Regions from separate parts of the Homo sapiens genome. Here regions 1 and 2 are each linked to region 3. Evidence: fine-mapped expression QTL. A gene starts in region 3. Each other region holds a variant in brackets. All regions are shown on one strand. Distances are from middle to middle.

The links. PIP is the estimated chance that this variant, and not a neighbour inherited with it, causes the effect. A credible set is the group of variants that fine-mapping cannot tell apart.
Region 1: its variant is the best candidate, but not a certain one, in a credible set for the expression of INPPL1 in whole blood (TOPMed, PIP 0.83).
Region 2: its variant is the best candidate, but not a certain one, in a credible set for the expression of INPPL1 in whole blood (INTERVAL, PIP 0.59).

What each region holds. Positions count from the first base shown.
Region 1 is chr11:72,029,032-72,033,271 of GRCh38, reverse strand. It overlaps NUMA1 (nuclear mitotic apparatus protein 1), which reads left to right. Exons shown (of 27, transcript NM_006185.4): 4 at 3,982-4,067. Among named protein-coding and RNA genes, the nearest start is that of NUMA1-AS1, 17 kb to the right of the region's middle. The variant G/T (reference allele first, on the strand shown) is at 1,729.
Region 2 is chr11:72,441,599-72,445,838 of GRCh38, reverse strand. No RefSeq gene overlaps it. Among named protein-coding and RNA genes, the nearest start is that of CLPB, 9.2 kb to the right of the region's middle. The variant G/A (reference allele first, on the strand shown) is at 2,354.
Region 3 is chr11:72,223,009-72,227,248 of GRCh38, reverse strand. INPPL1 (inositol polyphosphate phosphatase like 1) reads right to left here and starts at 2,482. Exons shown (of 28, transcript NM_001567.4): 1 at 2,083-2,482. The coding sequence starts at 2,264. RefSeq lists an enhancer at 232-591 and silencers at 1,997-2,206, 2,217-2,576, 3,127-3,526, 3,767-3,996.

The DNA.
Region 1 (4,240 bases), 190 kb after region 3:
GGAGAATTGCTTGAGCCCGGGAGTTTGAGGTTGCAGTTAGCCATGATTGCATCTGTAAATAGCTGCTGCACTCCAACCTATAACATAGCAAGAGCCTGTCTCTTAAAAATATATATAAATATAGTATAGAGAATGTTTTCAATTTAAACAAAAGTTGTGGAGCTAAAGCAAATTTTATGAAACTGTAGTAGCATGAAATAATGCATCTGTTATGTTAGTGAGAAGAGTGGCATAGAACATACACATACACACACATGATAATTCCAACTACAGTTTAAAAAAAATTACCTAGAAAAAACGAAAGAAATACATCAAAATGCTAAAAGTACCTGTATTAAAATACTAGAATTATTGGGAGCTCTGTTTTTTGTCTTCTGAATTTTCAGTAATTTATAACATAAAAATAAATTAGTGGTTTATTTTATTAATACTTAAATTATAGCTTGAAACTATTCTGTAAACAGCAGTTAATAATGAATAAACTGTTACAGGGTATTTTAAGATTTGACAACCTTAAGCAACCTTGCAATCCTTAAAGGCAACTCTTGAGTTATGTGGTGAGCCTGGTCCTCACTCTCATGTTTTATGCCCTGACTAGAGATGAAGGAACTTCTCTACTTCCTCAACTTTTAAATGATTTCTCACTTGAGAGCAAAAATAACTCACAGGAAGAAAAAATATTTTTATATCCATGAAAGGAACTGTGGCTGGATTATTACTTAATTGGTATATGTGATGAATCCAGATTCCTTAGGAGACTTTACATCAGCTAATTGGTATGATTTTTTAGTCTTGTTAGTGAACAAGCATCCATAGTCCTTGAATGTTTTACCTAGATTGCAGGTATTGATAGGAGATGGTTTAGCCTTGGCAGTCTCTTCATTTTCTGCAGGTAAAATGGAATCTTGGCCTGAAGTTTTCAGAATCTTCCTAGAAAACTTACAATGACCTGTCCTGACCAATTAGATTGAGCTTTTTTCAAAAGACAGTAAAAATATATTATAAATATATTAGCAAACTCTTTAAGACGTCAATAAGTCATATTTTATTTCACGTTAAAAAAAATTTTAATCTGTTTTAACTGGGATTCATCTAAAAGATTCCGCTTTTTGAGATAGGGTCTTGCTCTGTGACCCAGGCTGGAATGCAGTTGCAGCTTCATAGCTCACAGCAGCCTGGAACTCCTGCACTCAAGCAATCCTCTGCCTCCCACCTTAGCCTCCTGAGTAGCTAGGACCACAGGCATGCACCACCATGCTGGGCTATTTTTCCTTTCTCTCTCTTTTTTTTTTTTTTTTTAATTTTTTGGGGAAAGGGTCTTGCTATGTTGCCTAGGCTGATCTCAAACTCCTGGCCTCAAGCGATTCTCCCTCCTCGTCCTCCCAAAGCACTGGGATTACAGGCATGAGCCACCACACCTAGCCTAAATGTTGTATTTATTTATTTATTTATTTTTTTGAGACAGGGTCTCAATCCGTTGGCCAGGCTAGAGTGCAGTGGTGTGATCATAGCTCGCTGTAGCCTTGACCTCCCAGGCTCAAGCGATCTTCCCACGTCAGCCTCCCGAGTAGCAGGGACTACGCGAGCATACAGGCGCAAGCCACCTCACCCAGCTAAAAATTTTTTTAAATTATTATTTTGTAGAGCCAGGGTCTCCTTATGTTGCCCAGGCTGGTCTTGAACTCCTGGCCTCAAGCAGTCCTTCCACCTCAGCCTCCCCAAGTGCTG[G/T]GATTACAGGCATGGGCCACTGCGCCTGGCCTAAAAGTTGTTTTTAAATGTGAAAGTGTTTAACTCAAATAAATACTATCATGTCTGTAGAGAAATCATTGATTTTTAAAAATCCTCTTAATTCTATAGTGCATGCAGCTAACTTAACTATTAAGAAATACAAATGTTATGTCTACTTCATTATTTTAATTTTATTAACCATAATAGTGCTTTATGTTTATTAGTTTTTCTTTTTTCTTTTTTTTTTTGAGATGTCTCTGTTGCCCAGGCCACAGTGCAGGGACACTATCATAGCTCATTGTAACTTCTCCAGCTCCTGGGCTCAAATGATCCACCTACCTCAGCCTCTTATGTAGGTAGGACTTACAGGCACATGTCACCATGTCCAGCTTGCTTGCTTGCTTATTTATTTATTTAGTAGAGACAAGGTATTGTTATGTTGCCCAGGGTGGTCCTAAACTCCCAGCCTCAAGCAGTCCCCCTACCTCAGCCTCCCAAAGTGCTGGGATTACAGGTGTGAGCCACTGCACCTGGCCTACTTTATATTTTTTAATGTGTTCTTGCATCCATAATCCCATTTGAGCTCACACTGGTCCTTTGAAGTAGATAAAGTAGGGATTCCATCCATTTGGCAAGGGAGGAAACTAGTGCAGAGAGAAATAAAGTTTGTAACAAAGGTTGCTGGCAAGTTTGTGGAGGAGCTGGGCCCAAAGTGTGTATGTACTGGCTCCCAGCCCAAATATAGAGAACACATTTGTAAGCAATAGAATCTAGTTGTCTGCACATAACCACTATGCTGAAGTTCTTTAAAATACCTTGTTTCTTAAAGCAGGCTCAGTCTCTCTCCCCTCTTAGTGTTGAATATGTGAATAATTAACTTAGCAAACCCTTTCTTCCTATAGTAATAAAAACGTAAACTTCAGCCCAGGCTACTTCTGAACTGTAGTGCCTGTGGAATTCATGAGGTTTTCCTGTAGAGGTTGACCATGTATACTTATTGAATAACCTGTGTACCTGATGTGTGTGACCCCTGGTGAATATTCTAGTGGTAAAAACTGATTTAAATGTATGCCTATCTGAAGCCAAAGAATGGGAACAGGCAACTAAATTAGAATTAAGAAGTTTTTCTTTGAAATTCCCAGCTCCTATTCTTTCATCCCCCACCGCCCCCTTTTTTTTTCTTTTCTTTTCTTTTTTTTTTTCCTTTGGAGACAGGGTCTTGCTCTGTCACTCAGGCTAGAGTACAGTGATGCAATCCCAGCTCACTGCAGCCTCGACCTCCCTGGGCTAAGGTGATCCTCCCACCTCAGCCTTCTAAGTAGCTGGGACTACAGGTATGTGCCACCACTCCTGGCTAATTTTTTGTATTTTTTGTAGGACAGGGTTTCACCATGTTGCCCAGGTTGGTCTTGAACTCCTGAGCTCAAGTGATCTTCCCGCCTCAGCCTCCCAAAGTGCTAGGATTACAGGTGTGAGCCACCGCGCTTGGCTCCCTCCACCCCCTTTTTAAAAAATCATCTTGTTCCCCTATTGTTTTTCCCTTCTCCCCTCAGCCAAAGCTTTATGTGTGGAAAGAATAAAAATGTATTAATAAGATTTTATATCTTTGTGGGAGTGTATAGCATATATGTAATATTTAAGTTTTGAATAGATATTTCAAAACTCAAGAGCCACAAAGGGCTATAATATAAAATGTATTAATAAGATTTTATATGTTTGTGGGAGTGTATAGCATATATGTAATATTTAAGTTTTGAATAGATATTTCAAAACTCAAGAGCCACAAAGGACTATAATATAAAAATCCAAGGGATACAGAAACTTATAATGTAAACGTTCAAGAAATACAAAGAGCTATAATACATTCAAGAGCTACAGAGAGTTATAATGTAAGAGCCTTTCTTTTCCCACCTCAGACTCCCTGCTGTCAAGTTCCTCTCTTTAGAAGCAGTGGTAGTACCAATTTATTGGTGTATCCTTCCAAAATACTCCCAGTGCTGGAACATCTTAGGAAAGTTTAAGCTTTTATTTAGTTGAAGCCAAAGGAAGGGCTCTCTGATGGTTGCATTTCAGGTGGCTGTAACTGGATGAGTGAGTGCAACGGCACTCCTTCCTGAAATTAAAAACCTGAGAATCATCAGTTCTTGTATTCCTATAGTCTACAACTGTAAGCACTCACATTAAGCCTCTGGGAAAAGGAGCAAACCATGTTGCTTCTAACGGTCTCACTAGGCTGTTCCCTTTGATTTACAGGTGAACAGTCTACACGTGGCTGACCCTGTGGAGGCTGTGCTGCAGCTCCAGGACTGCAGCATCTTCATCAAGATCATTGACAGAATGTGAGTACGCACCATACCCCTTTCTAGCCTCTAAGGCAAAGCTGATTGCTGGGGTGGGGGCTGTACTTGTTCTCTTTACTTGATGATGGCTATGACCAGAAATCAGGGGAAGGATTGGGACATCATAAGCCAGGGTGGGGCCTAAAGGCAAGAATACATTGACCTCATCTTCC
Region 2 (4,240 bases), 220 kb before region 3:
ATCATCCCCATGCAATCACTGTTCTGCTTTATGTTACTATATACAGTATTTGCTTTTATTTTCTAGAATCTTATAAAATTGGATAATACAATGTGTAGTCTGTGTTTGCTTGCTTGCTTATTTATTTGTAGAACTGACTTGCTTCATTCAGCATTAATATCTTGAGGTTCATCCATGTCATTGTGCATATCAATAGTTCCTTTTTATTGCTGAGTCACACTCCATTGTATGGATATACCACAATTTGTTTATCCTTTTATGTATTGATAGAAGTTTAGGTTGTTTTTGAAACCAATCCAATAGTCCCAAAGATGGTTCTTTTTGATAAACATAGAAATTGACCCTCCTGATCTTAAAGCTTGAAATTTATATTTGTTTTATCTGAGTTCCTTCCTCAGGAAACAACCTTCAGGCCTCTGGAAAAAGTATCAAAGAACTGAAACTCAATGGATCACAGCACCAGATGACAACCCCTCATTCATTATGATTGCTTCCTTTGCCCCTCCCTAGTTCCTGTTTTTTTACACATTGTTACATTTCTTCCCTGATGTATAAACCCCTAGTTTTAATCAGTCAGGGAGATGGATTTGAGACTGAGCTCCCATCTTCTAGGCTGTAGCACCAAGAAAGGGGAGCAGCAGGCCTGACCTAAGCCACACCCCTGACCTAGACCAAACCCTTGACCTAGACCAAACCTCTAGTATATGGAAGAAGCAGGACCCTCCCTGGACCTAGACCAAACCCCTGGTGTTTTGGTAATATTTTTAGTTTGTAGCTTTTACAAAGTTGCTATGAACATTCATGTACAAGTCTTTGTGTGAGCATATGTTTTTGTTTTCCTTGGATAATAAATCTAAAAGTTGGAATGACTGGATCATATGGTACATGCTTGTTTAACCTCTAAAGAAACTGCCAAATTGTTTTCAAAAGTGGTTGTACCATTTCACATTCCCCTTCAGCAGTATATGAGAGTTCCAGTTGCTCCACATCGTCATGTGGTACGGCCAGTCTTTTTAATCTTAGACATTTTAATACATATATAATTCATGGTTTTAATTTTTATTTCTCTAAAGAGCAATGATATTGAGGGTGTTTTTTAGCGTTCTTATTTGACAGTAAGAAGTTATCTCTCCAAATCTTTTTTCCAACATAAAAATTGGGTGGTTTTCTTATCATTGAGTTTTGAGAATTCTTTTCATATTCTGATGTAAGTTCCTTACTGGATGTATAATTACAAATATTTTCTCCACTCTGCAGCTTATCCATTCTCTTAACAGTGGCTTTTGAGGAGCAAAAGTTCCTAATGTTGATGAAGTCAAATTGATCTTTTTTTTTTTCTTTTATGCATTGTGTTTTTCATGTTGTATCTAAGAAATCTGCTTTATCCAAAGCCACAAAGATTTTCTCCTATGTTTTCTTCAAGAAATTTTGGAGTCTTAGGTTTTACATTTAGGACAATAATTCATTTTGAGTTCATTTTTGTATATGCTGTAAGATATGGATCACTATAGTTTTAATTTGTATGTTTCTTGTCATGGGTGTATTGAGCATATTTTCATATATTTAAATATGATTTATATTTCATTTCTCATGAGGTCTTTGGTCAAGTCCTTTGCCCAGGCAGCTGTGTTTGGATATGCAGTTCGTGTGCCACTCAAAAGCCTAAACCAATAGGAGAAGTGGAGGCTGCAGTCTGGCAGCATGCTGCTCCCTGGGACATGTACACTGCTTAGGGGCCCCTTTTTCTAATTCATCCTGAGATGGCTGCTTTCTTTACTTTTCCCAGAGGCACTGCATAAGCTAGCAGAGGCATTGTCTTTGTTCACTTACTGCATTGTAGGTCTTTTTCATATTTTATAAGAGTTCTCTGTATTACTTAACCCTCCATCATTGTGGTGTGAATATATTCTTCCGAGATTATCATTTACATTTTTTACTGTTCATGGTATTTTTCAATCAGAATAATTACTTGTAGAGTCAAATACATCAGTCTTTGCTATTGTGGGTCTGAATTTTGTGTCGTGCTTAGAAAGCTTCCCTACTCCAAAGTTATTTTGAAAAATCACTTCATGTTTTCTTACTGGCATGTTTATTGTTTCTTTTTCACATTTAAGTCTTTTGATTCAGTTGGCATTTATTTTGGTGAAGGGGTGAGACAAATCTAATTTATTTTTTCCCCAGTTGGCCACCTAGTTGTCCCAACACTGTTTATTAAATAATTAATATTTTCCCCACTTACGTAAAGTGCCAGATTTATCACAAACTAAATTCTCATCTTTAATGTAATAAGAGGACATATTACCCTGCCCAGAGGCCACATGCTACACTTTGATTCTATGGGAAAGAAACAGAT[G/A]ACAAGAAAAGGAGGCAATTAAGAGATTTGTTTATTTTCAGAGCATGATTTGAGTTAGTGCTTAAGAGTTCTACATCTATCATGTGATACAAAAATCAGGATAGCAATAACCTTTATCAGGAAAAGATTAAATTGTATTTACTATCTTCTATTTGTGAATAAGGAAAGTGTTCAATATTTTTGAGAAAAAGTAATGCAGAAGACTTTACACACACACATACACACACACACACACACAAGTTCCTTCGTTAGGAAAAGTTGTGTAATGGCTAAGACTTTGGGCTCTGACTCAACATAAGCCTGTGATGCTACTAGTCTCTAACTTGTGTTAATGTAGGGATTGAGTTTATTCATGTAAAGTGCTTATTAGCACAATGCCAGACTCAGAATACATGCTCAATATTCAGTAGCTGTTAACTTCTATTTTTGAAAAATGCTTAGATGAGTTTCTCCAAGATTTCTCAGATGTGGTTTACCTGCTATCACTGAGGGATTGTGCCTTCATTGACTGGAGAGATCACATGGAAAACATGCCTACCAAACCTGGGAGAAACTTACCTGATCATTTATATAGATAATTGATGTGGTTCACTTACTCAGCACAGTGGCTGGAACATAGAAAATACTTAATAAAACTTCCTGTTATTATTAATAATAAATCATTTTGTCTTAGTTATTCCAAAGAAGAATTGTAGAAGAGTGGACCTGAAGACAGTGCTATGGCAATATGCAGCAGGATCAGCAGAAAGTGAATTCTTTTTTTTTTTTTTTGAGACGGAGTCTTGCTCTGTCGCCCAGGCTGGAGTATAGTGGCACGATCTCGGCTCACTGCAACCTCCGCCTCCCAGTTCAAGCAATTCTCTTGCCTCAGTCTCCCGAGTAGCTGGGACTACAGGCGCCCACCACCATGCCCGGCTAATTTTTTGTATTTTTTAGTAGAGAGGGGGTTTCACTGTGTTAGCCAGGATGGTCTCCATCTCCTGACCTTGTGATCCGCCGGCCTCGGCCTCCCAAAGTGCTGGGATTATAGGCATGAGCCGCCATGCACAGCCCAAAGAGTTCTCTTATATCCTCCACTCCACTTCCCCAATGTGAACATCTTATATAACCATAATACAATGATCAAGAACAGGAAATTAACATTTATACAATATCATTAACTAAACCTTAGAATTTATTTGAAATTCATCAATTTTCCCACTAATGTCCCTTTTCTGTTCCCTGGTCCTATCCATGATTACACAGTGCATTTAGTATTTATTTCTTCTCAATCCCCAGTCTGTAACAGCTTCTCAGTCTTTCCTTATCTTTCGTGACCTTGACACTTTTGCAGAGTACTGTGACAGGCAGAATTCTAAGATGATCCCTAAGGTTTCCACCGCTGAATGTACATACCTTGTATACACTCTTGAGTACAGGCAGAACCTGTGAATGTGATGGGATATCACTCCTGTGATAACATTACTTATCGGTTCACTTTGACTTATCAAAAGAGAGATTATCTGGGTGGGCCTGATCTAATCAGGTGAGCCCTTTAAAATAACCAGGCCCTTCCTGAAGTCAGAGAAGCTTGCTTGCAAGTATGAGAGAATCTAAGGAAGTGGTTACATGGCAAAGACCCAAGAGTTTTTTCCAGGAGCTGAGAGGTTCTCAGCTGCTGCTGGCTAGCAATACAGCCTCAGTCCCACAGCTGCTAGGAAATGATTTCAACCAACAGTGTAAGGCAGCTTGAAAAACTACCTTTGCCTGGTGGGCATGGTGGCTTATGCCTGTAATCCCAGCACTGTGGGAGGCCAAGATGGGTGGATCACCTGAGGTCAGAAGTTCGAGACCAACCTGTCCAACATGGTGAAACCCTGTCTCTACTAAAAATACAAAAACATTAGC
Region 3 (4,240 bases):
GTGATTTTCCTAAGGCCACAGAGTAAGTAAAAGGTGGAGTTGGGATTTTAAACCATGGCAGAAGCCAGGGCCAGTATCCTAGCTTGCTGGTCAGATTGCCTGTGCCTGCTGGGGCAGGGGCGTGTCTTGCATGTTATCCATGAACACCCGGAATGTATACAGGTAAGCAAGTATGTGTGTATTTGGCAAATCTAAGATATTGCCCACGTCTGATCGCCCACGTCTGATCCTTACCCCCAGGCTCTTGAGATGCGGGGAAGAGCCAGAGTCAGCTGGCAAACCTGAAGCCCCCACTCACAGACAGACCCCTCACCCCATTCACAGCCTCCCTTGGCAATGAGGCCAGGATTCTCCCCCTCCTGGGACAATAATGTTCCTCACCCAGACACAGGCCCCAGCTGTCCCCCTCCCACTCAACAGCTGACCCAGCACCTGCCTCCCTCCCCAGCCTAATTAGGGGGTATGCCTCAGAGGGGGCTGGGAAGCAGGACTTGGGGATATTCATCTGCCTAGTCTGTCCCTCCTTAGTCTCCCCCTACTGGGCCTCAGACTTGAGGCCTAAGCTAAGACTTATAGGGCCCCTTCCTTGTTGGGTCAATTGCCTAGGCTAGAGTTTTTCAACCTCCATACCACTGACATTTTGGATTGCACAGTTCTTTGTTGTGGGGGACTCTCTTGTGCACTGTAGAATGTTTAGCAGTATCCCCGGCTTCTACCCACTAGATGTCAATAGCACCATCCCAGTTGTGACAATTAAAAATGTCTCCCCAGCTGGGCGAGGTGGCTCCACCTGTAATCCTAGCACTTTGAGAGGCCGGGGCAGGTGGATCACTTGAGGTCAGGAGTTCAAGACCAGCCTGGCCAATATGGTGAAACCCCATCTCTACTAAAAATACAAAAATTAGCTGGGCTTGGTGGCGAGCGCCTGTAATCCCAGCTACTGGCGAGGCAGAGGCAGAAGAATCACTTGAATCCAGGAGGCGGAGGTTGCAGTGAGCCGAGATTGCACTACTGCACTCCAGCCTGGGCAACAGAGCGAGACTCTTTCTCAAAAAAAAAAAAAAAAAAAAAGGTCTCCCCTGGTCTAGGCTAATGTGCGCCCCGACCAAAGATGTCAGGAGAACAAAGGGGTAAGGAAGGTACAGTGGGACAGGAGTTTGGGAGGGGGTTCACAGAGCTAAGAAAGATCTAAATAAAGATCTAAATAACTGATCTAAATAAAGCAGCCCCCACAGATTCCCACTCACTGGGCCCACAGAAGCCAACTCAATGTCAGACTGCAGGGCAGGAGGTACAAAGCCGCTAGAAGGCTGCAAAACCAAGAGTGCTAACTCACCCCAGCACCACTACCAACCACACTGGGCTGAAAGGCACAGCCACAGGACCTGGCCCACTCAGAGAAGCACCAAGTCTGGCTCTGCTCTCACTCAGCACTCATAGCTCAGGGCTAGGGCAGCCAGGTAACCAGGGCTCAAGCCCAGAGCCAGGGCTCAAACACTCACTCATTGGTTCAGAAATAATGGCAAGGTCCCATACAGCCTCAGCCTCTGCTTCCCCAAGCCTTCCTCTCTACACCACCCATCACCGCCCCCACCACCCATACACGGCCAGGCAGAACCCCAAAGCACCGAAAGGGGCCCTAAGGAAGCTGCCAGGCATCCCCACACACCCCGTCAGTCCCTCTGCCCCGACTCCCTCTCCTGCTCACCACTCAGTCCCTATCCAAACGGGACTGCACACAACGTGGAATGCACATCCTCTCCCCTGCTCCCTTCTACCTGGAGGATGCCTGAAGGGGTCTGCCGGGGAATGCCCGAATTTTTCGTCATCACAGTCACACTGGGCCACAGAACCCCATATTCTCTACCCTCAAGGCTCCTGAAAGTGCCCCCAGACACACAGCAGGAAGTGCCCCTGCGTCCCTCCTCAGACCCAGGAGAAAGCCAAGGCTCCCACTCTGGGGGGTGGAGGCGGGTCTGGCGTCCCACCGCCCCAGAAACCCTCACCCGGGCCCTTTCCACACCCGGCCGTGCCCGCGCTCCCGGTCCACGCCAGCCCGCAAGGAGCCCCCGCCCCACTCACAGGACGCAGAGCGCGAAGGCCCCCGCCACGCTCTCGCTGTCTCGGACCAGGAAGCTGCCATCGCGGCCCGCCCGGGCCAGCAGCTCCTCCGCGGCCGCCCGGCTCAGGTCGCGGTGGTACCAGGAGGGGGCCTGGCTGCCCAGGGCGCCCCCCGGGCCCGGCGCCCCGCAGGCCGAGGCCATGGCCCGCGCAGGGCTCAGCACCGCCCGCCCCCGCCGCCCCGCGCCATCCGCCCCGAGACGCTCAGGGCTGAGGCTGGGGCCGGGCCCGGGGCCCGGGCTTGAGGATCCGTGGGCCGGACAGAGCCGGGGATCGGGACTCAGCACTCCGCCGCGCAGGCCGCCTCGTTCACCGCGCAGCCGCCGCTGCCTGCAGCGCCGGCCTCAACTTGAAGAGAAAGAAAAGTTTGTTCAGAGGCGGCGGGGGAGGGGCAGGAGCGGAGCGCAGGGCCGGCTGCCGCCCCCTCCCCCTCCGCTCGGCCCGCAGCCCGGGCCGCCCCTGCCCCCAGCTCCTCCTGCGGGGACGGTGCCCCCACCTTCCCGAAGGGCCCGGGACCTCCCAGACCCCACAATGATCCTGCCCCCATCATTCACCCGAGGAGATCCAGTCCCCAAATCCCCATCGAAATCCGAGTCCCCCCATCCTGGCCCCGACACTTCGGGATCCAGGCACCCCCTGGAGAATTCAGCGCTTCTCAGTTCTCCCAATGATATGACCCCTAAGCCCCATAAAGGTCTGATTCCACTCCATGGCTCTTCCTCTCGTCCCCCTTACAGCTTGGCTGCATCGAGTTCCCCAAACCTGCGAAGGATCCAGGACCACCCCCTACCCATCCTCTTCCCTCCACCCAAGCGGGCGGGGCCCCCAACTCCTGCGAAATGCAGCCCCCTCTTAGATCTGAACCCCCAACTCCACGGGAACCGTCCCCCGGCAAAGCCTGCGGGGAGATTCCCTGGCTAACCAGGCTTCTGAAGATTCTTACTCTGGCGGGGGGCCCAGACGAGGTGCGACGTTCTCGAGCCTCTCACGCAGCCCCTCCCAGCCCCGCAGAGCCCTTCCCCCTCTCGGCCAAGTTCCCCAGCACCACCCCCCACACCCGCAGGCCGGGCCTTGAGGGGGTTCAGCAGTCCGAAGCCAGGAGGATCCCTGGCCCGTCTAGTAGAAAGTTCCCTCCCGGGATCCCGGCCGCCGCACGCAGACCCCCACCTCCCGGGCTGCTCCGGCGCCCCCTTCCCCGGACAGCGGCCCTGGGCTCCAGGCGGCCACTTAAGATGGCCATCCGCGCGCGCCCCCGCCCTCCGCGCCGCCCGCCCCGCCCCGCGCCGCCCCGGGGAGCCGGGGGCAGCACCGCGCCTCGCCTCACCCCGCCCCGCGCCTCGGTCCCGGAGCCGCTGGCCCACTGGGTGACCTCGGGCAAGTCGCGGCGCGGGGTTGAGCGTCGGCTTCCCGCTCTGGAAAATGGGGATCCTGTGGCGAGGGCCGGCTCTGGGGGCCGAGCTCGTACCGCGCTCGGCACCGGGCCTGGCGCCCAGCCCGCGCTCCCGAACGGCGGCTATTTTTATTATTAATTAAGGAGAAACGAAGGTGACAGCTGTGTAAACTGTAAAGCGCGGCTGCGGAACGAACGGGTATTATTAGCACTCGCCCCCGCCCCAGCGGCTCCCTCCGAGTCAGCAAACTCGCGCCTCCGCGGGCCGGACGCCCAGCGGGGAGCTCCCAGACGGGGTCCGCTGCAACGCCCCCCTAGCTTCCTCCCCTCCAGCCGAGGGCGGAAGGGGGACGCGGCAGCCGCAAAGGGGGCGGAGCCCATAAAAGGGTCTGGCCCGCCCCCTCCCAAAAAAAGACCTAGCCGGTGGCGGCGTCTCCGGGGAGTCGTCTTCCTGCCCCGCCCCTCCGCCCCCTGGCTCCTTAAAGGCGCAGGCCTCCAGCCGGGCGCCCGCCGCCACCATCTCCTGGGCCGCCGTGGGAGAATCCCTTTAACCTGGGAGAGAACTTTCACTTTGCTACGTTGAACCTGTTGACGGAGCCCGGGTCAGTCCCTCGAGCTCCTTCCTCTATTTCAAATATGCATTGACTTAACCCAGCTGGAGCAGAGCCTGGGACGTGGAAGGGGCTCTGTGGGGCCTTCCACACTAGATAAATATAATAACTAAGAGAT